Regions from separate parts of the Homo sapiens genome. Here all the other regions are reported to be linked to region 4. Evidence: microRNA targets listed by miRTarBase, many of them from high-throughput screens and not tested one by one. Region 4 holds a microRNA gene; each other region holds the end of a gene's coding sequence.
The links. Region 4 holds the annotated microRNA hsa-miR-6720-5p (UUCCAGCCCUGGUAGGCGCCGCG, at 3,458-3,480, opposite strand). A microRNA usually pairs through its seed, bases 2 to 8, with sites in the 3' UTR of a target mRNA and lowers its output. Matches are read on the target gene's strand: a 7mer-m8 pairs with bases 2 to 8, a 7mer-A1 pairs with bases 2 to 7 and ends in A, and an 8mer does both.

Region 1 (3,000 bases), not on the chromosome of region 4:
GGAAATGGGTCTAGAGATAGTCTTTTCTCAGATCCTGAAACTCAGATATATAGGGGAGAATCCATTGTGAGGGAATATTATTAGTAAAAGACCCATTTTACCTCATCCTCATGAAGGCCAGTGTGAAAAGAGGCATTGAGACTCCCCTAGGAGGAATGGTGGTTAGCAGATGGCTGCTATTGTCAAGGAGATGGCGTCAGCCTCTTCCCTGGAAGGCACAAAGTAGAGTTCTTACTGTAGGATATGAAGACTTACGAAGGTGTCTCGCATCTGTTTTTTTACAGACAGGTGCAGTTCAGGAGCAGATGAGATCCAAGGGAAACCGAGATAGGCCATGGAGCAATTCTAGGGGCTTATAGCTCCAATAATGGAATGGTGAGTGATTAGAGAAACCCATCTAACACCTCAGCCCCCATAACAGCACAACCTGATACCCTGACTCAGAACCCTGATCTTATGCAAGAAAGGGAGGTGTGGCCGGGCATGGTGGCTTATGCCTGTAATCCCAGCACTTTAGGAGGCCGAGATGGGTGGATCACTTGAGGCCAGGAGTTCAAGACCAGCCTGGCCAACGAGGCAAAACCCTGTCTCTACCAAAAAATACAAAAATTAGCCGGGCACAGTGGCGTGCTCCTGTAGTCCCATCTACCTGGGAGGCTGAGGCATGAGAATCACTTGAACCTGGGAGGCGGAGGTTACAGTGAGCTGAGATCGCGCCACTGCACTCCAGCCTGTGTGATAGAGCAAGACTCTATCTCAAAATATAAAAAAAGAATGGGAGATAGGGAGGAATTAGAAGGGAAGATTCAAGAATGTAGGATCTAGGCCGGGCATGGTGGCTAACGCCTATAATCCCAGCACTTTGGGAGGCCGAGGTCAGCAGATGACTTGAGGTCAGGAGTTTGAGACCAGCCTGGCCAACATGGTGAACCCCTGTCTCTACTAAAAGTACAAAAATTAGCCAGGCATGATGGCACACGCCTGTAATCCCAGTTACTCAGGCGGCTGAGGCCGAAGAATCACTTGAACTCGGGAGGTGGAGGTTGCAGTGAGTCTAGATTGCGCCACTGCACTCCAGCCTGGGCAACAGAGTGAGATTCCATCTCAAAAAAAAAAAGAATGTAGGATATAGAAAGACTGAGAGGGTGTTGTGCAGACAGAAGTAAAGAACACACTGTGGAAATAGCTTAAAGTCTGCACTAGGTAGTGCCTTCTTCCTAAAGCCTTGGTTTTCTTTGAGGCTAATCTTCTTTAAGAAAAACTTTTTTTTTATTTCAGGTTCTGCCATCTTGAAACCCCCATTCTGTTTCCAGCCCAGAAGAAATGCTGCCCCTACCAGATCCCTCCTTGAACCAGTGATCTAAGGACCCCTCTTTTCCCTATCTGCCTAACAGTGCCTCACAAGGCTTGGGGGCTGGACTCCCTCTACTCCCTCTGGCCATAGCCCCTCCTGGAGATGGGGTCAAGGCAGCAGGACTGATCAAGTGACTACTGGTTAGCCAGAGGAGCTCAGCTGAAGCCCTGGAAACCCTCAGGTCTGAGATAGGAGTTCTCTAGGAACCTGGAATGAGTTCCTGTCTCCTGAATGATGGTCTGGGTGCCACCTGTTTTTAAACTCTTAAACCTGGAACTCCTTAAATGGGGTAGGTGGGTGAGATTATCAAAGCTGAAGCTGGCTTTGCTGAGAAGCTCCCTACCTCCCTGCCCTTCTCCTCCTTCCTGCTGGAATGAACTAAAGCAGATGTCAAGCAGGGGCTGGTGGGGGTGCCTACTCCCTTTTCCACTCTATCTTTAGATTTCAAACCTTAGGCTTACAGCCCCTCAATATCTCTCTGCTAACACCAGTGTCTCTTTCTAGTTAGGCCTCTAATCTTCTGTTTCTGTTTACCAGCTTCCCAGCAACTTTCCTTTTTTAAAATATTAAAAATTTAATTCAGGTTCTCTTAATTATCCTCATCCTGCTGTTGCCTCCGCCCTTAACTCTATCCCTATTAGGAACCTTGTTTCCCACCGAATAAGAGTTAAGGTAAGAGGTAGCTCTTCACCTGATGACATTCCATTTAAGTTTTGGGGCATCTTTCCTGCCCTCTGCCAACCTCCCTGCTGGCCCAGGTGAGAGGAGGAAGAGGGGTCTGGAAAGAAACCCAGAATGCGGCAGAACTAGGAGTAAGTCCATCTCAAGGTGGACTTCTGATCATTGAGGATGGTGAGATAAATAGGTTGAAAACAATCATCTGTGAGTTTAGGAGTCTTAAGATCCTCACAGCACGGGAGCAGGGAGAGGCTCTAGAACAAGGTTTCACAACCGAGATGCCTTTGACATTTTGGGCTGAAGTGTTCTTTGTAAGGAAAACCTGTTTCCTATTTTGTGCATTACAGGATATTTAGCAGCAACCCTGGCCCACTCTAGTTATGACAACCAAAAATGTCTCTATACATTGCCAGATTTCTCCTAGGGGGCAAAATCGCCTCCATTTGAGAACCACAACTCTAAAGTCAAGATATTTTTCTCTGAAGTGATTTCTGCTTGGCACGCTACCCTCATCATCTTACTCATCTTAAGCCCGAGCCATGGATCAACTAGGAGCCCATATAAATGAGGCTCAGTAGGGCTGCACATAATCTCCAAACAATTCTTTATTCAGTGTTTTGCTTGTGTTTGCATGTTGCTATGATGGACAGGTCCCCCTCCTCCATTCTTGCCCTCTGGAGAAGTGGTTCCTGCAGTGTAGAGATATGAACAGGGTATGGTAGGATTGGGGAAAGGGGAGAGAGAAGCAGTAGATACACTCCTTATCCTCCCCAAATTTTAAGCTCTATTTCTGTGCCCTAGTCCTAGACACACATTAGACTCAGGGAGTTTTGTCTGAAGACCAGGTCCCACTGCCCCCTGGCTGAAGAGTCTGCTTTAAATGGGAAAACAACGTAGGAGCAGGGGTTTTTAGGCACTTTCAGTATTCTCAGGTGTTCTTCGTTCTGGCCCTTCCAGGGTAATTAGGA
Region 2 (6,238 bases), not on the chromosome of region 4:
ACGGCTAATTTTTATATTTTAGTAGAGACCGGGTTTCACCGTGTTAGCCAGGATCGTGATCCACCCGCCTCAGCCTCCCAGAGTGCTGGGATTACAGGCATGAGCCACTGCGCCTGGCCAGCAAACAGTTATTAAGGGCCCATTTTGTGTTAGTCACTGTTCTTGGCTCCGGGCATGCAAGAGATAACAAGACAGATTCCTATCCTCACCAGGCTTAGAGTCAGATGGGCAGTCATCAGACAATGACAGGACACAGTGATATGTGTTTCCATGGGGGACATACAAGTAGGGACTCATTTGCTAGCCATGTTGGGGTGACTGGGGTCAGGGACGATGTGTGTGGCATCCCAGTCGAGTCTAGCAGAATCAGTAGGAGTTGGCCAAGTGAAAGTCAGGGAGAGGAGGGAATGGTGTTTCAGGAAGATGGAACAGCATACACAAAGGCCCAGAGGTGAGAGGGATGTGGCTGTGTGCCATCGAAAGAGTTTTAGCTTGGTAAGAGTGTGACAGTATTTCAAAGTAGGGAGAGGTGGTGAGAAAAGAGTATAGAGACCAGGTGTGGTGACTCACACCTGTGATCCCAGCACTTTGGGAGGCTGAGGCGGGAGGACTGCTTGAGGCCAGGGGTTTGATACCAGCCTGGCCAACATAGTGAGACCCCATCTCTACAATTAAAAAAAAAAAAAGTGTAGAAGTAACAGTGTCTACCTGAATTGGTCCTTCTGCCACTCTCCTCATCCTTGCCCTCTTCCTTGCCCTATTTTTGAGGCCTCCTGGAAGATGCTGAGCTGTGGGTAGGATGCATTGGGGTGGCCAGTTCAGCTCCAGCCAAGCTCTTCTGTCTCCTCTGCCAGGGATGGTCCCTGTGGCCCAGGCAGGGTCGTCAGAGGCCAGCCTGGCTGCAGGTGCTTTCCCGCCCCCTGAGGACGCCTCCACGCCATTCGCCATCCCGCGCACCTCCAGCCTAGCTCGGGCCAAGCGGCCATCGGTCTCCTTCGCGGAAGGTACCAAGTTTGCACCACAGAGTCGCCGAAGCTCAGGGGAGCTCTCCAGCCCGCTCCGAAAGCCCAAGAGGCTCTCCCGGGGGGCGCAGTCGGGTCCTGAGGGCCGGGAAGCCGAAGAGTCCACAGGCCCAGAGGAAGCAGAAGCCCCCGAGTCCTTTCCGGCGGCTGCCAGTCCCGGGGATTCAGCCACTGGCCACCGGCGGCCCCCACTTGGTGGCCGGACAGTGGCTGAGCACGTGGAAGCCATTGAGGGCAGCGTCCAGGAGAGCTCGGGCCCTGTGACCACGATCTACATGCTGGCAGGGAAGCCCCGCGGATCCGAAGGCCCTGTCCGCTCTGTCTTCCGCCATTTTGGTAGCTTCCAGAAAGGCCAGGCGGAAGCCAAGGTCAAGAGGGCCATCCCTAAGCCTCCGCGCCAGGCCCTGAATCGGAAAAAGGGCAGCCCTGGCCTTGCCTCTGGCTCTGTCGGCCAGAGCCCCAACTCAGCCCCAAAAGCTGGGCTTCCTGGGGCCACAGGGCCTATGGCAGTCAGACCAGAGGAAGCGGTCCGGGGGCTGGGGGCTGGCACCGAGAGTTCAAGGAGAGCCCAGGAGCCAGTCTCTGGCTGTGGCTCCCCAGAACAGGATCCCCAGAAGCAGGCTGAAGAGGAAAGGCAGGAGGAACCTGAGTATGAGAATGTTGTACCCATCTCCAGGCCACCAGAACCCTGATGACCTTGAATTTGGGGAGTGGGGAGAGTGGATGGACTAGACTGTGCTGTGTGCTGGAAAATGATCCCGGGGCCAGGACAGACAAACCAGAGCCTCTGCGCCTCCACAGGGAAAAGGCAAGGCTTCCAGGCCAGTTGGCCCAGGCCCCTGGCAGTGCTCCCGGAGGGGCCCAGGAAGGCCTGGGCAGAGACCCTGTAGGATGGGGTCAGGAAGGGTTGCCTGCAGGGACTTTTGCTCTGCTGTCCTGGACCCTGTGTGCCTCATAAGGGCTATTCTTTCTTTCACGTGCAAAACATTTTTCTGAAATAGCAAACAACCTACATGTTTGCTGATAAAAGATTGGCTAAACAAATTTTTTTTTTTTTTTTTGAGACAGAATCTCCCTCTGTCCCCCAGGCTGGAGTGCAGTGGTGCGATCTCGGCTCACTGCAAGCTCTGCCTCCCGGGTTCACGCCCTTCTCCTGCCTCAGCCTCCCGAGTAGCTGGGACTACAGGTGCCCTCCACCACGCTTGGCTAATTTTTTTGTATATTTAATAGAGACAGGGTTTCACCATGTTAGCCAGGATGGTCTCGATCTCCTGACCTCGTGATCCACCTGCCTCGGCCTCCCAAAGTGCTGGGATGACAGGCATGAGCCACCACGCCTGGTCTATGAACTTTTTAAAAAGGATGTATGTGTATAAAAACAGATTCAAGGGAAAGGCACTAAATGGTTTTTTCCTCTGGAAGATGAGATTGTAGGTGATATTTATTTTCTTCTGAAACTTTTGTATAGTTTGCAAATTTTCTACAGTGAACATTCTTTTTTACTTTTGTTACTAGATTGAATTTGATAAAGTATAATAAAAAGCAATGATCTTTGTTAAAAAAATAAAAAGTACTAACATTACAGACATGTATAAAGTAAAACGGAGATTTCCTTTCTCCCCAGAGGCGTCTGTGGGTCAAGAGAGAGGTAGAATCTACTTTTCCCTGGCAGCTTTTTGGTCTTGTTTGAATTCTTTGCTCACATATTACCTAGTCAGAAAAGAAAAGGGGCAACCCTCCCCCCGAGCTTTATTTTTTTTTTTTTTAAGATGGAGTCTCAGTCTGTCACCCAGGCCGGAGTGCAGTGGTATGATCTCGGCTCACTGCCACCTCTGTCTCCCCGGTTCAAGCGATTCTCCTGCCTCAGCCTCCTGAGTGGCTGGGATTACAAGCGCCCGCCACCATGCCCGGCTAATTTTTGTATTTTTTGGTGGAGACAGGGTTTCACCATGTTGGCCAGGCTGGTCTTGAACTCCCAAACTCAAGGGCTCCACAGCTTCGGCCTCCCAGAGTGTTGGGATTATAGGCATGAGCCACCGCGCCCGGCCAGGGGCAGCCCCTTCTATCTCAGTGCTCAGAGAGTCTCATCAACAGTTGAGGTGCTTTCTTTCAGATGTTTTTCTGTGTACATGTCAACAAATATTTTAAACAAAAAATTTTAGCATACTAAGCATACTGTTCCTCAGCTTCTTTTTTTTTTTTTTTTTTTCTTTTTGAGACGAAGTTTTGCTCTGTTGCCCAGGCTGGAGTGCAGTGGTGCAATCTCAGCTCACTGCAACCTCTGCCTCCCGGGTTCAAGCGATTCTCCTGCCTCAGCCTGCTGAGTAGCTGCAATTACAGGTGTGTGCCACCACACCCAGCTAATTTTTGTATTAGTAGAGATGGGGTTTCACCATGTTGGCCAGGCTGTTCTCGAACTCCTGACCCGCCTTGGTCTCCCGAAGTGCTGGGATTACAAGCGTGAGCCACCGCGGCCAGCCTCAACTTGCTTTTTTACTTAACGACATATCCTGGATATAGTTCAATGTCCATAAATGTAAAGCTAACTCTCTTTATTTAAAAAATGACTACATGAGATTCCATCTAGCACAATTATTTAAATCATTCCCCCGCCAATGGAAGGTTGGGTTGTTCTGATCTGTTTTGATACAATAAGCAATGACATAGTATACAACTTTGTCCATATTTATTTATTTATTTATTTTTTGAGATGGAGTTTCACTCTTGTTGCCCAGGCTGGAGTGCAATGGCACGATCTCAGCTCACTGCAACCTCGGCCTCCTAGGTTCAAGCGATTCTCCTGCCTCAGCCTCTCGAGTAGCCGGGACTACAGGCGCATGCCACCACGTGCAGCTAATTTTTTTGCATTTTTAGTAGAGATGGAGTTTTGCCATGTTGGCCAGGTTGCTCTCGAACTCCTGACCTCAGAAGATCTTCCCACCTTGGCCTCCTAAAGTGCCGAGATTACAGGTGTGAGCCACTGTGCCCAGCCACTAAAGCTTCTAAAAAGTATATATAATTTTTGTGTGTGTGTTTAGCCATCAACAATTATATCTCATTACAATTTAAAGTTCTATGAGTATTCTAAGGTTGTTTCTTTTCCGTCTTGGCTCACTGCAACCTCCGCCTCCCAGGTTCAAGCCATTCTTGTGCCTCAGCCTCCTGAGTAGCTGGAATTACAGGCGCCCACCACCATGCCCAGCTAATTTTTGTACTTTTTGTAGAGATGGGGTTTTGCCATGTTGGCCAGGCTGGTCTCGAACTCCTGACCTCAGGTGATCCACCCACCTCAGCCTCCCAAAGTGCTGGGATTCCAGGTGTGAGCCACCGCACCTGGCCATTTGCCCCTTTTCAGGAGTTCATGTTTTCATTCCACAAACTCATATTGTGCAACTGCTTTGTGCTTGCTTCTCTATCAAGGGCTGGTCATACAAAGTTGAATAAGACACCGTCCTGCCCCCAAAGAGTTCATAGTCAATTAGAGAGGAAGGCAAACAGACGAATAGCTAATTATAAAACAATGCCAGCAGTGGACAAATAAAGTGAACAGTATTAATGGGGAGTGGTTAGGGAAGGCTTCCCAGCGGAGGTGCCGTCCAAAATGAGGCTATGTCGCGAGCTAGAGGAGAGAGAACAGCAGGTGCAGAAACCACAGGCAATTCCATGTGACTGGAGCATCGGGGACCAGGCAGGTCAGATGTCCTTCAGAGGGAGGGAGAGGGAGGAGCCTGTGTGGGTCAAATTGGGGAACTGGAACTTTTAAATTTTGTTTATTTTTTTGAGACGGAGTCTCGCTTTGTTGCCCAGGCTGGAGTACAGTGGCACAATCTCTGCTCACCGCAACCTCTGCCTCCCCAGCTCAAGCAATTCTCCTGCCTCAGCCTCCCAGGTAGCTGGGATTACAGGCGTGTGCCACATCACCCAGATCTTTTTTTTTTTTTTTCTTTTCAGACAAAGTTTCGCTCTTGTTGCCCAGGCTGGAGTGCAGTGGCACGATCTCGGCTCACTTCAACTTCCGCCTCCCAGGTTCAAGTGATTCTCCTGCCTCAGCCTCCAGAGTAGCCGGGATTACAGGTGTGCGCCACCACACCCAGCTAATTTTTTGTTTCTTTAGTAGAGACAGGGTTTCACCATCTTGGCCAGACTGGTATCGTACTCCTGATCTTGTGATCTGCCCACCTCGGCCTCCCAAAGTGCTGGGATTACAGGCGTGAGCCACCGCGCCCAGCCATTTTTGTATTTTTAGTAGAGACAGGGTTTCACCATGTTGGCCAGGCTGGTCTTTAACTCCTGACCTCAAGTGATCTGCCCGCCTCAGCCTCCCGAAGTGCTGGTATTACAGGTGTGAGCCACCGTGCCCAGCCAGGAACTGGAACTTTATCCTGTTTTACAAATAATAGTTTCTGAAGGATTTTGGCAGAAGTCACATTTACATTTCCCTTAGTGCCCTGGGATGAGATGGGGGCTGGATTTGAGGAACTGAAATCTGAAGGTGGCTCAACAACAGTAGTTGCGGGCCTAAGGGCACAGATGGACCGATTAGGTAAATATGTAGGAGATACAGCTGTATCAGTTTGATGGGGATGCGGTGAGGGAGAGGCAGAATCACAGCGACTGCCTAACAAATGTCTGATGAAAGGATGGTTCTCAGCAGGGCACTGTGAGTCATGCCTGTAATCCCTGCACTTTGGGAGGCTGAGGTGGGAGGATCACTTGAGCCCAAGACTTCAAGACCAGCCTGGGCAACAGGGCAAGACCCTATCTGTACAAAAAATACAAAAATTAGCCAAGTGTGGTAGCATGCACCTGTGGTCCCAGCTACTTGGGAGGCTGAGGCAGGAGGATCACCTAAGCCCAGGAGGTCGAGGCTGCAGTGAGCTATGATCATGCCACCACACTCCAGCAGTCTGGGTGCCTGAGATCCTGTCTCAAAAAAAAAAAAAAAAAAAGAAAAAGAAAAAAGACAGGGTTCTTGGTATCTAACTTCAGTAGACAGTAGTAGTATGGTTATCTGAGAGAAAATGTGGAGGACAGTTCTGGGGGATATTTGAGGCATGTTTGAGCCCTGCAGCGCCGTCAGGCTGCTCAAAGAGGAGGGAAGGGTGAAGAAAGAGATTTTTCAGATGGCAGTTGAAACCTTGGGAGTGGGAAGGGTTCCACAGGGTGAGGAACCGGGTAGGCTACCAGCTGGAGCCGCCCCCCAGCAGGCTGACAGC
Region 3 (6,238 bases), not on the chromosome of region 4:
TTACAGGCGTAAGCCACTGCGCCCAGCCTGATTTTTAATTTTTTGAGGGAAATTCTGTACTATTTTACATAATGGCTATGCCATGTTACATTCTGACCACAGCTGCAATTTCTCCACATTCTCACCAACACTTGCTATTTTCTGTGCTTTTTGTTTGTTTTATATTGGCCATCTTAGCAGGTGTGAGGTGGATCTGTGGCTCTGATTTGCATTTCCCTGATGCTTATTGGTGTTGAGCATCTTTTCATATGTGTGTTGCCGTTTCAAAATTTTATTTGGAGTCATATCTATTCAAGTCATTTGCCCATTTAATTTGGTTTTGTTGTAGAGTGCTGAGAGTTACATAATCTGAACATTAACCCATTCCCTGATTCGCGTGTTGCAGATGATATCTCCCATCCCCAGGTTGCCTTTCACTCTTGTTGATCGTCCTTTGTGGCGCGTACGTTTTTCAGTTTGATGCAGTCCCATTTGTCTATTTTTGCTTTGGTTGCCTTGTGTTCAGTATCAAAGAAGGAAAGTCACCGGATGAGGGAAGGGACAGGTCCACCTCCTCTCCCTTCGAGCTGTTTCTTTACTCCCTGACACCAGGGATTAACCGGGGTCTCCTGGCTGCCTCTCACCTGGCAGCCGGAGCTCCAGGAGGGGCTGGAAAGGAGCCCCCTGGGCCTCCGTCTGGGGGGCGTGTGTGAACTGTTTTCTCCCGTCACAAAAAAGGCTTCCTCCACATGCGTTTGCACGCCCGGCAGAATTCGCCCACAGCAAGGCCCCCCTTTCTAAGAAGGGAGGAGAACCCACATTGGAGCAAAGAAAACGGTGGCCAAGAGGTGGGGGCCTCGGTAGGGCAAGGAGGCAAGGCTGGGTTCCAGGGGACAGGGTCAGCTTTGGGTGGGGCCCAGAGCCCCGGGTCGCAGTGACGGCCGCCGCAGGGGTCTCCCCCCGCGTACCTTCGCTTCTGTTGAAGGCAGTGAGATCCGCAGGCCTCCGGGACAGCTAGAGGACAGCAGACATGTCCCGTGGGGGAAGCCTGGGCCTGTCTGAAAACACCGCCTCAGCTCCCTCCGGGGTCCCCCTGCGTAGACCTGGCTTCAGGTCCGGAGAACCGGATTCTTGAGGGCTGCAAAGACTTTCTCCCCCATGCGCGGGGTCAGCTGGCGGCTCAGGTGCGATTGGAGGCCTGGGCCCCGAGGGACCACCGCCCCAGGCCGAGCCGAGTCAGCGACCCCGAGCGCGGCGCCCAGGGGTGGGGGTCGCGCCCGCAAGGCGGGCAGAGCCGGGCCTCGAGACCGTTCATTAGGCAGAATGAATTGTTCACCGTGCCCGGAGTGGATGAGGACGAGCCAGTGATTATATTTAAATTTGCTATAATTGATTTGGGGAAGAGCTACTGTGACAAGAACGAATTGATCATTAAATTTATTAGCGAGATAAATTCCGCGGCGACTGAGCGGCCTGCTGGAGGCGCAGGGGCCGGCGCAGGTCCGGGGCCTGGCTCTGCTGGAGGACGGGGGAGGGGCGGCCCTATTAACAGCGTCTTCCTTTGATGTCGCTCTTCCCCGCGTCCCAGAGGAAGCGCCTGTCCCCTGGGGGTAGAGGGACAGACCCTCCGCGGAGGCCTGGGGCACCCCAGCTCCAGGCCGAGCCCCCACTCTTCCCTGGCTGCCCAGTGTTGGTGAGGGCGCTGAGGCTGGGCCGGCTGAGCCCAAGGGGAAAATAATCCCCAGATGTGGGGCCAGCCAGGGGAGAGATTGCTGCAGGCTGAACCTCACCAATGTGTTAGAAATTAAAAAGAAATGTAGGGATTGCAGATTAAAAAAAAAAAAAAAAAAAAAAAAAAAAGCATCTGTCTTCCCCCCTTCCCTCTGGTTTTCCCACCCTCTTCCTCTGGGCACTCTGCCTCCTCCACCAGTGGCAAACCCTCTCCCAGTTCCCCTAAACACCTTTGGACCCCAGGCGGCGGAGGCCCGGCCCCTGCGCCAGCGCCCAGCAGCTGCTTCTGCCCGGACTCCCAGCAGCCGCGCCCCGGCCTTGGATGAGGTTGATTTTATGGAAGGGGCCCGGGGTGATAATGAGTTGCCAGAGAGGATATTAATCTCCCCGCGCCCTGAGGCAGAGGAGTGGCTGCGCTCGCCCCGCGGTAATCACCCAAATGAAACGCCAGGCCCTTCTGAACTCATTTTATCCGCTGGGAGGAGGGGAGGGGAGGAGGGAGGAGAAGGGCACACGCAGGTGCTGCTGAGAAAGTGACAAACAGAAGGAAGGAGGAAGGCCCGGGAGAAGGGATAGGAGCGGCGTCCCCGTCGCCCGTCTCCTCCGGGGCCAGGAGAGGCCACTGGGTCATCGATGGGGGAAGGGGGCCGGGAGTCGCGCCGGGCTGGGTGGGCCGCGGGCCTGCGCTCCTGGGCGGACGAGAGCGCGGGCTGAGCCCGCATGTGTGCAGCACATGGCGCTGGGCCTGGCTGCGGTGATTGATGGCGCGCGCTGCAGAGGCTGATTAACCCGGAGCCGCTGCAGCCGCGGTGTGGAGCGCTGCTGCAGTCCGCCGCTGTCCTCGCGGACTTGTTTGCACAGAGCCAAGAAGACCGATCCTGGCCAGCCAAGGAAGGTTCTGCTAACAGAGAGGGCCGGGGTCGAGGAGAGAGAGAAGCACCGCGCAATTCGGTGCGTTCCGGGAAATGTGCCTCAGTAGCGCCTGAGGTCACAGGGACCCCACATGCTACTAACGCCTAGTCGTTTTAAGCTTATTTTCTGAAACGTCCAAATAGCGTATTTCCACTTCTGGAGTGCCAACGAAGCAACAGCTAGCAAGGAAATAGGAAAATAAATAGAGTCCACAGCTCCGCTTCCGAGGGACACGTGTCCCGGGACAGGTGTGCACCAGGCAGCCGGGCATGCGCTGACACCTGGCCACAGGTATTTTTGCCAACACTTCACATTGCGACTCCCCAGTAGCAGGCGCGGAGGTGGTCCTGACACCCACTTGAGACTCCGATTTTCACCCTCAGCTGCCAACCGCCGAGTAGACACCCTCCCCATCATTTCTACAAGCAAATTGTAATGCCGCGGGCATAATCCCCCAAAACTCGTGCACGCTGATCCAGTACAAAACCAATTTATTTTACATTCCATCGTGGGCGATGGGAGAAGCTAAATAATAATTTAGCATGCATACGTAGACGTTTCTTTTTATATATAAATACAATATACAAAAATAAAGACAGTACAGTTTTGAGATTTCCAGCAGTTTGAACGCTCGTGACATAATCCCCCCGACCCCAGAGACGTAAGCATAAACCCTTTTTTCTTTTTCCAAATACTCTGCAGAATGGCGGCTCCAGAGGCGGTTTCAAGTTTCATAAGTCAGGTAACACTGTGGGTTTCCGCCTTCTCGGACGCGGGGAAAGGGGAGACAGGAGGCTTCCCCTTGCGCGGGGTGGGTCGGTTCTTCTCACACGCACTCGCGCCTCCCCCAACACCAACCAAAATTAATTTTAAAAGAACCAGAGTTCAAGTTTCAGCCCCCTGGGTCTCCCTCTCGCTGTTTCTTGAAGAGCAGGTGAGGCGCCCTTGCTTAAAAGGGAAGCGCCCAGGACCGGAGCCGCGGCCGAATCCCTCCAGCCCCGGCCTGGGCGAGGGGTCCATGGGGCGGCGGTCGAGCCTGCTCTCGGGGCCGGGCCGGGTGGGTGCGGGCGCCGGGGCCTCCGGGAGAAGCCGCCGGCCGGGGCGCTCCGTGCGCGCCGCACCTGCTGGGCCGCGGGGCTCCTACTGGGGCGCGGGCTGGTGGCTGGGCCGCGGGGGCGGCGAGTCGTCCTCCGAGGAGCAGTCGGAGGAGGCGGCGTGGACGCTGGCGCCGTTGCTGTAGGGGAAATGGTCCTCGTCGTCCTCGTCCTCGTCCTCCTCGGGGTCACTGTCCCTCAAGTCCCGCAGGCGGCGTCCGCTGCCCTTGTCTCCGGGCGCTGGCGGCCCCAGCAGCTCCTCGGCTCCCGGCTCCTCCGCGCCGCCCTTCCCCGCGCCCCCGCCGCCGCCCTTCTGTTTCTCCGCTTCCTGCGCCGCCTGCTCTTTGGCCTTTTTGCTGCGTTTCCATTTCATCCGCCGGTTCTGGAACCAAATCTTCACCTGCGGGCACAAGCGGGCGTGAGAAACCGGCCACCGCCACCCCAGGGCTTCCTGTCCCCGGAGTCCCCCGGCCGCGTGCGCCTGGGCCCCATTGGGTCGGCCCTGGAATGGCCTCAGGGTGAGACGACTTAGAAGCAGAATGGGGAGGGGGCTCGTAGCTTCCTCCTCCCCGCAACCCCCCACTCAGCAGCAAACCCCAGAGCTGGGCTGGAGCTCCGTGGGAGCTAGGACTATGTCCCCAACGACCCAGGCCGGGGACTTTTCTACCCGCGCCCTCCGTCTGCGGAGGAAGGGTCAGGGCAGCTGGCTACGTCGCGGTAAATCTCAGGATGTTCCCTCCTCTCTTTCTGGAACAAAATTTCTCGAATGCGGCCTGGGGATCACCTTCTTCAGAATGAAAGGAGGGGTGGTTAAGTGCTGATTCTTGGGCCCCACCCGAAGCTACTGAATCGGCGCTCTGGGCACCTTAGATGAACCCGTGCGCCCGCCGTCTGAACCGTCGAGGCGCAGCGCTAGATGCCTCAGACCGCCCGTGGGTCACAAGTGCAAAGGTAACAGTGTCCCCTGGGAGGCCGGGATGCGTCGGGGGCGGGGAGGGCGCGCACCTGGGTCTCGGTGAGCATGAGCGAGGTGGCCACCTCGAAGCGCTTGGGCCGCGACAGGTACTTGTTGAGCTTGAACTGGTGCTCCAGCTCCAGCAGCTGCTGGCTGGTGAAGGCGGTGCGCGGCCGGCGGCACTTCCCCAGGAGGTTCGACTGCGCCTGGGCTGGGGACCAAAGGGCAGTGAGGCCCACAGCCGGCTCCGGTCCTCGCCCCAGCCCCTCCCGTTGCTGCTTGTACCACTACACTCAAGGCCCCAGCGCCAAGGCCTGGCCCTGCAGAGGGCGGGGCTGTTCCCTCACTATCAGTGCCCACTCCCCAAGGAATGCGGACTCAGGACCACCAAGTGGAAATGGATAGTTTGGAGTTAATGAGACCAATTTTTTTTTTTTTTTTTGTCTAGGAGACGTCTGAGTGTCCCTGTTAAACAGGGCCCATCGCAGGAGGCTTCCTCTCCACAGGAGCCGGCTTTGGTAGCAGTGGATTGACCCAGAGGCAAGAGGAGAACTGAGGCCAGTCGGGGGCCAGGAAGGGAGGTTCCGGGAAGCCCAGGAGTTGAAGGCTGCAGTGAGCGAGACTGCACCCCTGCACTGTACCCTGGGTGACACAGCAAGACCCCATCTCTCAATAAATAAAAAATAATAAAATAATAAAATAAAGGAGCAGTGAGTGATGAGAACCAAATCTCTCCCCCTCTCCTCACTGCGCCTTCCTAGAGATTCAGGCTCAGATCCAAACAGGTCTGGGAAGAGCTGGTCCTGCTGTTCCAGGTCTCCCTGCACTGCCTCCTTAAGACAGAAAAGGAGGAGGAGGAGGAGAAAAAGAGGAAGGAAGGAAGGGAGAGAGGGAAAGAGGGAGGGAGGAAGGAAAGAAGGAAAGAAGGAAGGAAGGAAGGAAGGAAGGGAGGAAGGGAAGGGAGAGAGGACAGGTGGAACAGGACCAAACCCAGGGTCCAAGTCTGTGTATTCACCAGGGACCCTCCCACCTTCCAAATGTTTTCCTTGGCATGCCCCCTCCTCAGGGTGCGGGCGGCAGGGGCAAGGCCTGAGGAGACTAGAAGCCTTTTCAGGACAATTCTCATTACGCAAATTACAGGCAGAGGCGCAGGCAGGATCCGGTTCTCTGTGTGTTCAAGGAGGCCTGCCCGGCTTTATTTACATAATTTCGCACGGTTACATCACAGAGAATTTTATGACCTCAAAACGAGACTTCCCTTGATTTCCCAGGAGCCTGACAAGTGTTGGACAATAAAAGAAAGAAAGCAAAGGAAAGAAAGGAGGCCAGCCCCAGGCCTGGATGAGCTCAGGTCCCCCGGGATGGGCAGTTTGCTTTAGAGGATGGCCCACGCCCCCTGCTTTAGTCAAACAAGGCCCCGAATTCCCAACTTGACAATACATTAGAACTTTAATTAAACCACTGGCTCCGGAGGGACCATTTGGGAAATGCCATCCAACAGGCAGAGACAACCAATTAAAGAAACCAAACAGGTTTTCCCCGGACCAGCGAGGAGGACTTCTCAGAA
Region 4 (6,238 bases):
TTGCTTGTTTCCTTGTTTGTTTTAATGAGTACCTGTGGACTTCCTAAAATCTCAGGCAAGTTGGAAGTATTTTTCTGGAAACTGGCTCCATAGCTTCCATCGTATTCTCAGAGGATGACCCCATAACCCCAAAACTGGGAGCTACTAGTATAGAAGGTTATCACTGGTCCTGCCTGGATTTTAAGGTTAGCGCCTTTTATTCTTCAGTCTCCGGGTCCTAAAACCTTTTAAGGCCTGCTCTTAACAAGTTGGATCTGTATTCCCTGAGATCCAAATACATATAATTTTCAGGCACAGAGAATCAGAGAGAGTCCATGGCTAAGTGACAATGAGTACTGAATGTTTCCAAAGCCCGTTGCCCACCGCCCCCACCTACAAATGAGATAATTGTCCTTTTCCCCCACAAGCTTCTCCCCTGGGCTCTTTCCATTTAAAGCACACACACACACACACACACACACACACACACACTGAACTCTATGTCAGTAGAGCTCCTTTAAGATCCTATCTGTCCTCCCCACTCCAGCTTCTATTTTATGAAAATAATTATATTTTAGGCACTTAGAGCATTGGTTTAGTGAACACATTATATTTACTTTCATATTTAGTTATGTATTTTTAAGTTATTCCACACAAAATGACAAATGAGGGCAAGAGAAAAAAATACCATGAAATATATGGGGACGCACCCCCCAAAAACGCTCAGCAGTCAGTCAGAAATTCTTAGAAAGTGGAAACAACTGCGAAGCCCTACCCCAACCCAATCAAAACATCCCACCCGGAAAAGAGCGACTTGTTTCTTTTTTCTATTGGAAATGAGTGGTAAACTGAGTTCGGTTTGGCGGTGTTTTCTTAGCTGACTCTCGGCTACAATCAAGCCATTTTCGGACACATTCCCATGTAGGTACCAGGGGTGCTCTGGAGGAAGCTGTCGACGCCTGTTCAGCTAATTTAGGTTTTCTTTGTCTAATTACTGTGGAGCTTAGGGAGAAGGAGCCGGCTCAGGGCAGTAAACTGACACTCGGTCTCTGTGTGTGGTATCCAGGCAGGGTTTGATGGAAAAAGCCTGCTTCCACTCAACCTCAGGTCACTGTCTGGGGCCAGCCCCGGCCCACCCCCCTCCCACATACCCCTCCCCTCCCCACCCGCCCTCTCTGCATCTACAGCCCCACCAGCACACTCAGCCAGGAGCAGTCCCCCGGCACTCCAGGGGCACACAGGGCTCCTGCCGCCCCAGGGGGCCTGCCTAGGCTGTGCGGCTGTGAAGGCTCTTTGCCTGGTGTCTTCCTCCTGATTACTGCACAACCTCCCTTTCTCCTGCCTCCTGCAACTCCCCAGGCTCCCCAGCAGGCACACCCGTGCACCTCGGTCCTTTCAGCCTAGACGCAGCGGGGTGCCCAGCTCTACCTCCTGTTTGGTCCGCTGGTCTGCAGCACCTTCTTTCTGGGCCTCCCCCTTCAGCCCTTGGGAGGCCCCGCCAGCTCCGGCCTCCTGCTCTCCTCCTCCCTCTCCCAGCTCCTATCCCTGGTCGGACTACATTTCCCTGCACGTGTAATCCAATAACTAACTGTCGGGTCTCATTGGAAGTGATTGCTCCCGAGGGCACATCTCTCTCAGAGCCTGACTCTTACTTAGGGAGGAATTAGCCACAACTGGGGAGAAGTGTTCTCGGACAGGAGTTAGCTGAGACCTGGCACAGTTTTGGGTGGGCAATGTTAAGACGGAGGATGTAAACCTAGTGACAGCTGCACACCCCTTCAGGACTGACTATAAATATAGCCATCTCGCTTATCTCAGGGTCTTTCTTTTTCTTTCTCTTTCTTTCTTTTCTTCCTTCCTTCCTTTTTCTTTTGCACTTTTTTCTTACAGAACACTAACTGGGGTGCGGGGGTGGGGGGAAGAAGTGGAAGCAAATGCAACCCTAAGTCCCATGAGATCCAGGTTTCCAGAGTCTTTGAAACTTGGCCTAGGTTTCTCAGTGTAAATCCCTCTGCTCAAAGTTCCGAAAACGTCCACGATCGCCAGCGGCCCGCAACCCTGCGGCGGCCCCCAGTCGCCCTAACAATTGTCGGGGAGCCTGCAGGCCCTGCCAGAAAGAGAGAGGATTGGCACGTTACCTTTGGGCGTCTGGCACCCCGGCGTGTGGCTGAGGGCGGCAAAGTCTAAACGAAGTTGACAGATGGAGTCAGTATCGGCCCTGGGGAGGGCGGCCAGGGAGGCTCCGAGCAGCCGCACCCGCAGCAGCACCACTCGGCCCGGCGGGCCAGGAGGAGGAAGGGGGCGCGGAGGGGCGGGGCTGGGTCCTGGGATGGGACGCGGGGCTTGCTGCGGGGGGCAAACAGAAAGAATATTTCATGAAGTCAGAGGTGGTCGAGTTTTGCGAGGGGTGGGGGTCGTCCCCCTGGCAGAACCGGAGTGAGTCTGTGATCCCTCAATTGGAAAGAGGGTGAGTGAGGGAAAGGGGAGGAGGCCGCGAGAGGAATGAAGAGCGAGGAGACCCTGGAGAGCGGGGAGCGAGATAAGAGAGGGAGGCGGCCGCCAGGTCGGGAGGGGGAGGAGTGAGCGCGGCGGCGCGGAGCGAGGAGGGGGCAGGGCGGGGTGGGGGGGGAGGGAGGGAGGGAGGGAGCGAGGAGGGCGGCCGGGGAGGGCGAGGGAGGGAGGAAGTCCGAGAGACAGAGCGAGGAGCGCTCCTGAAGGGAGACGTCGGGCTCGTCCCCGGGGTCCAGGCCGCGGTCCCACTCGCGGGCGCAGTCGCCCGGCGCCGGCCGCTCGGCCCCGCGGCCTGGGAGGCCGTTGCGCAAGGCAGGGCCCGCGGCTCGGGGAGGGATGCGCCGGGCGTTGCCTCCCGCCCGCCGCCGCCGCCGCCGCCAGAAGCCCCAGAGGAGCTGAGGGAGGCGACGCCGAAGCGCTGGCCCGGAGTGGCCACGGCTGCAGCCCGGGCGGCGGGCTAGGGCGCTCGCAGGGCTTCTGGGCCGACCCCGCTCCGGCGCCTCCGCTTCCCGCCCGGGGCCCGCCCTCGCGGCCCGGCCTCGCTCCCGGGTCCCAGATGACCACCGAGGGCGGGCCGCCGCCGGCCCCGCTCCGCCGCGCGTGCAGCCCGGTCCCCGGCGCGCTCCAGGCCGCCCTGATGAGCCCGCCGCCCGCCGCCGCCGCCGCCGCCGCCGCCGCCCCGGAGACCACCTCCTCCTCCTCGTCGTCGTCCTCCGCCTCCTGCGCCTCGTCCTCGTCCTCCTCCAATTCGGCCAGCGCCCCCTCGGCTGCCTGCAAGAGCGCGGGCGGCGGCGGCGCGGGCGCCGGGAGCGGGGGCGCCAAGAAGGCGAGCTCGGGGCTGCGGCGGCCCGAGAAGCCGCCCTACTCGTACATCGCGCTCATCGTCATGGCCATCCAGAGCTCGCCCAGCAAGCGCCTGACGCTCAGCGAGATCTACCAGTTCCTGCAGGCGCGCTTCCCCTTCTTCCGCGGCGCCTACCAGGGCTGGAAGAACTCGGTGCGCCACAATCTCTCGCTCAACGAGTGCTTCATCAAGCTGCCTAAGGGCCTCGGGCGGCCCGGCAAGGGCCACTACTGGACCATCGACCCGGCCAGCGAGTTCATGTTCGAGGAGGGCTCGTTCCGCCGCCGGCCGCGCGGCTTCAGGCGGAAGTGCCAGGCGCTCAAGCCCATGTACCACCGCGTGGTGAGCGGCTTGGGCTTCGGGGCGTCGCTGCTGCCCCAGGGCTTCGACTTCCAGGCGCCCCCGTCGGCGCCGCTCGGCTGCCACAGCCAGGGCGGCTACGGCGGCCTCGACATGATGCCCGCGGGCTACGACGCCGGCGCGGGCGCCCCCAGCCACGCGCACCCTCACCACCACCACCACCACCACGTCCCGCACATGTCGCCCAACCCGGGTTCCACCTACATGGCCAGCTGCCCGGTGCCCGCGGGACCCGGGGGCGTCGGTGCGGCCGGGGGCGGCGGCGGCGGCGACTACGGGCCGGACAGCAGCAGCAGCCCGGTACCCTCGTCCCCGGCCATGGCGAGCGCCATCGAATGCCACTCGCCCTACACGAGCCCTGCGGCGCACTGGAGCTCGCCTGGCGCCTCGCCTTACCTCAAGCAGCCGCCTGCCCTGACGCCCAGCAGCAACCCCGCCGCCTCGGCAGGCCTGCACTCCAGCATGTCCTCCTACTCGCTGGAGCAGAGCTACTTGCACCAGAACGCTCGCGAGGACCTCTCAGGTAACGCAGCACGCTCCAGCCCAGCCAGCTGGGCGCACCGCTTCTAGGCCTCCAGGGCTGGCGGCCACTGCCACTCCCACAAACAGGGACCCCGAAGCTAGGAGGTCTGAGGGCACTGGGAAAAGCAGATGCTGGGGAAAGCCGGCATCTTATTCGTGGGAGCAGGGATCAGGGTCTTACTGTCCTCCCAGTATCCCTGGCCAGCAGCCGAAGCTTCAGAATTGTCTGGCTGCTGTGAGCGTGGTGTAAAGTCCCCTGCCTTCCTGGGCTCTTTGGGGATCCCTGTGCAGGAGACTGCAGGTCTCCCGTTCAGAGTCTCACTTAGCTTGGAGAGAAGGCATCTGGCCTTTGGGGAACTTGGTCAGGAAGCTGTGTCTAGTTCCTTTTGTCCCTTTTTTTCCTTGCGTTCATTTTGCTGTACTTCTGTCCCGAAGTAAATGTCAGAATCAGATATGTTCTGTATGTTGGGGTGTCTGCAGCGAGATGTTTGCAGCTGGGCAAGTGTTAAGAGGAGGGGGTGGGAGGGACAGAGCTGGATCCCAGGATCTTTCACTAAAGGGACATTTGCCAGTGGAGGGGGTCACCAAACTGTTGGAGACTCCTCCCCTTCCCTGCCTCCCCCCCCGCCCAACAATGGACCCACATTGATGATACAGGTCCTGGGTGGCAGGACCTGAAGGACCCTGCTAGGACTCCCCTGAGAAATGCGCCTGCCCTGTGGATGCCACTTGTAGTGTGGCTGGTTTACATTGTTCTGGTTGCAGATTATGAAAAATTATTGACTTGCTGAAGGCGGTGAAAGGTGGGAGGGGACGGTAGGGATGGAAGAGGGAATTTGAATATTTGACCAGGTTAATGTGAAGAACAGAGATAAACCCTTACATTAACCCCTCGCTCGGAGCACCTAGGGCTGCAGATTAAAATCCCATGGGCCTGCCAGTCAAAGGCAAGGCCCCAAGCTACTCTCTCACACTGGCCTCCCACAGCAATGAGACAGTGGCTTGGAGGGTGATGCATGCTTTATGTGTTCCTGAGCCGGTGTGCAGCGGGAGCACCCGGGGAGAAGGAAAGCCCAGAAATGGGCAAAAGATGTTGGTTCCCTGGACGGTGAAATTTCCCAAATAGGCCTTTTAAATGTGGGTCTCAGAGGTTAACCAAACAAAGACAGTCTCGGCAGGACCACACCGGAGAGGATTTTAGCCTGACTTAACCCACTGAGAACAGAGTCTTGTTCAATTTTATGGGAATTTCAACAAGTAACCAATACAGGCGGCCTTCCCCTCTTATTTTTGTATTCCCTTGGACCGGCTGTCAATCACACACACACACACACACACACACACACACACACACACACACCCCTCGGTGCACTGGCCCCTTCCCTTCCCCGCCTGCCTGCTCCTCTCCCAGCCTGCCAGCTGCCCTCCCTGCTCCCCTTCTTCTCCTCTCCCGGCAGATCCACTCAACTTGAACCCGGACTCTGAGGCTTAGCAGCCTTGGAGAAACCGTACTCTAGGAAGAAAAAAAAGCACACAGGAAAGAGACTCCTGACCCTTCCTCAAGGCTGCTCTCGCCCCACCTCATAACACTGGGCGCAGGCACAAGCTCCCAAAACTTCGGAATCTGGATACATTACTGTCTTGGAGGGGGTGAAAACTGCCCAGCAAAGCAAGCCGGCCTCTGTGCCCCTACCCAGCGGCCTCCCGCGGCCGGCCTTCCCTGGGAGCCTCGCAGAACCCCCGACCGAGTCTGGGAACGCCCGGGGGAGACAATAGCTCGGGCCTGACGCCCGACAGGGACCCTCTGCCCTTCCTTCCTCGCTGTCTTGCTCCCGTCCCTATAGGATACCCACCCGGCCCTGTTGCCATCTCCCTGGAGCGCCAGCGGTGGAGGCTTCGGAGGAGCCGGCCGGATGCACCGGGACCCCGCGGGGCCTAGTTGGGAGCGCGCCGCCCACTGAGGCCTGGGGGCCCGGCGAGGCGCGGGGGTGGCCAAGGCAGTCTCCCCGGCACACAGATCAG

Region 1: miRTarBase lists CDC42SE1 as a target of hsa-miR-6720-5p. Seed matches in the 3' UTR shown: 7mer-m8 at 1,413-1,419 and 7mer-A1 at 1,722-1,728.
Region 2: miRTarBase lists SCARF1 as a target of hsa-miR-6720-5p. Seed matches in the 3' UTR shown: 7mer-A1 at 1,767-1,773 and 7mer-m8 at 2,110-2,116.
Region 3: miRTarBase lists MNX1 as a target of hsa-miR-6720-5p. Seed matches in the 3' UTR shown: 7mer-m8 at 3,614-3,620 and 7mer-A1 at 3,236-3,242.

What each region holds. Positions count from the first base shown.
Region 1 is chr1:151,051,606-151,054,605 of GRCh38, reverse strand. CDC42SE1 (CDC42 small effector 1) reads left to right here. Exons shown (of 5, transcript NM_020239.4): 4 at 285-375; 5 at 1,279-3,000. The coding sequence ends at 359. Among named protein-coding and RNA genes, the nearest start is that of C1orf56, 5.4 kb to the right of the region's middle.
Region 2 is chr17:1,630,234-1,636,471 of GRCh38, reverse strand. It overlaps SCARF1 (scavenger receptor class F member 1), which reads left to right. Exons shown (of 11, transcript NM_003693.4): 11 at 855-2,614. The coding sequence ends at 1,714. Among named protein-coding and RNA genes, the nearest start is that of SLC43A2, 4.5 kb to the right of the region's middle.
Region 3 is chr7:157,001,758-157,007,995 of GRCh38, forward strand. It overlaps MNX1 (motor neuron and pancreas homeobox 1), which reads right to left. Exons shown (of 3, transcript NM_005515.4): 2 at 4,722-4,882; 3 at 3,097-4,116. The coding sequence ends at 3,763. It overlaps MNX1-AS2 (MNX1 antisense RNA 2), which reads left to right and starts at 4,550. Exons shown (of 2, transcript NR_147077.1): 1 at 4,550-4,667; 2 at 5,120-5,363. RefSeq lists enhancers at 1,101-1,807, 3,524-4,176 and a silencer at 3,945-4,139.
Region 4 is chr6:1,386,902-1,393,139 of GRCh38, forward strand. It overlaps MIR6720 (microRNA 6720), which reads right to left and starts at 3,510; the gene lies at 3,413-3,510. It overlaps FOXF2 (forkhead box F2), which reads left to right and starts at 2,675. Exons shown (of 2, transcript NM_001452.2): 1 at 2,675-4,217. The coding sequence starts at 3,047. It overlaps FOXF2-DT (FOXF2 divergent transcript), which reads right to left and starts at 2,560. Exons shown (of 3, transcript NR_187218.1): 1 at 2,118-2,560. RefSeq lists an enhancer at 3,857-4,722.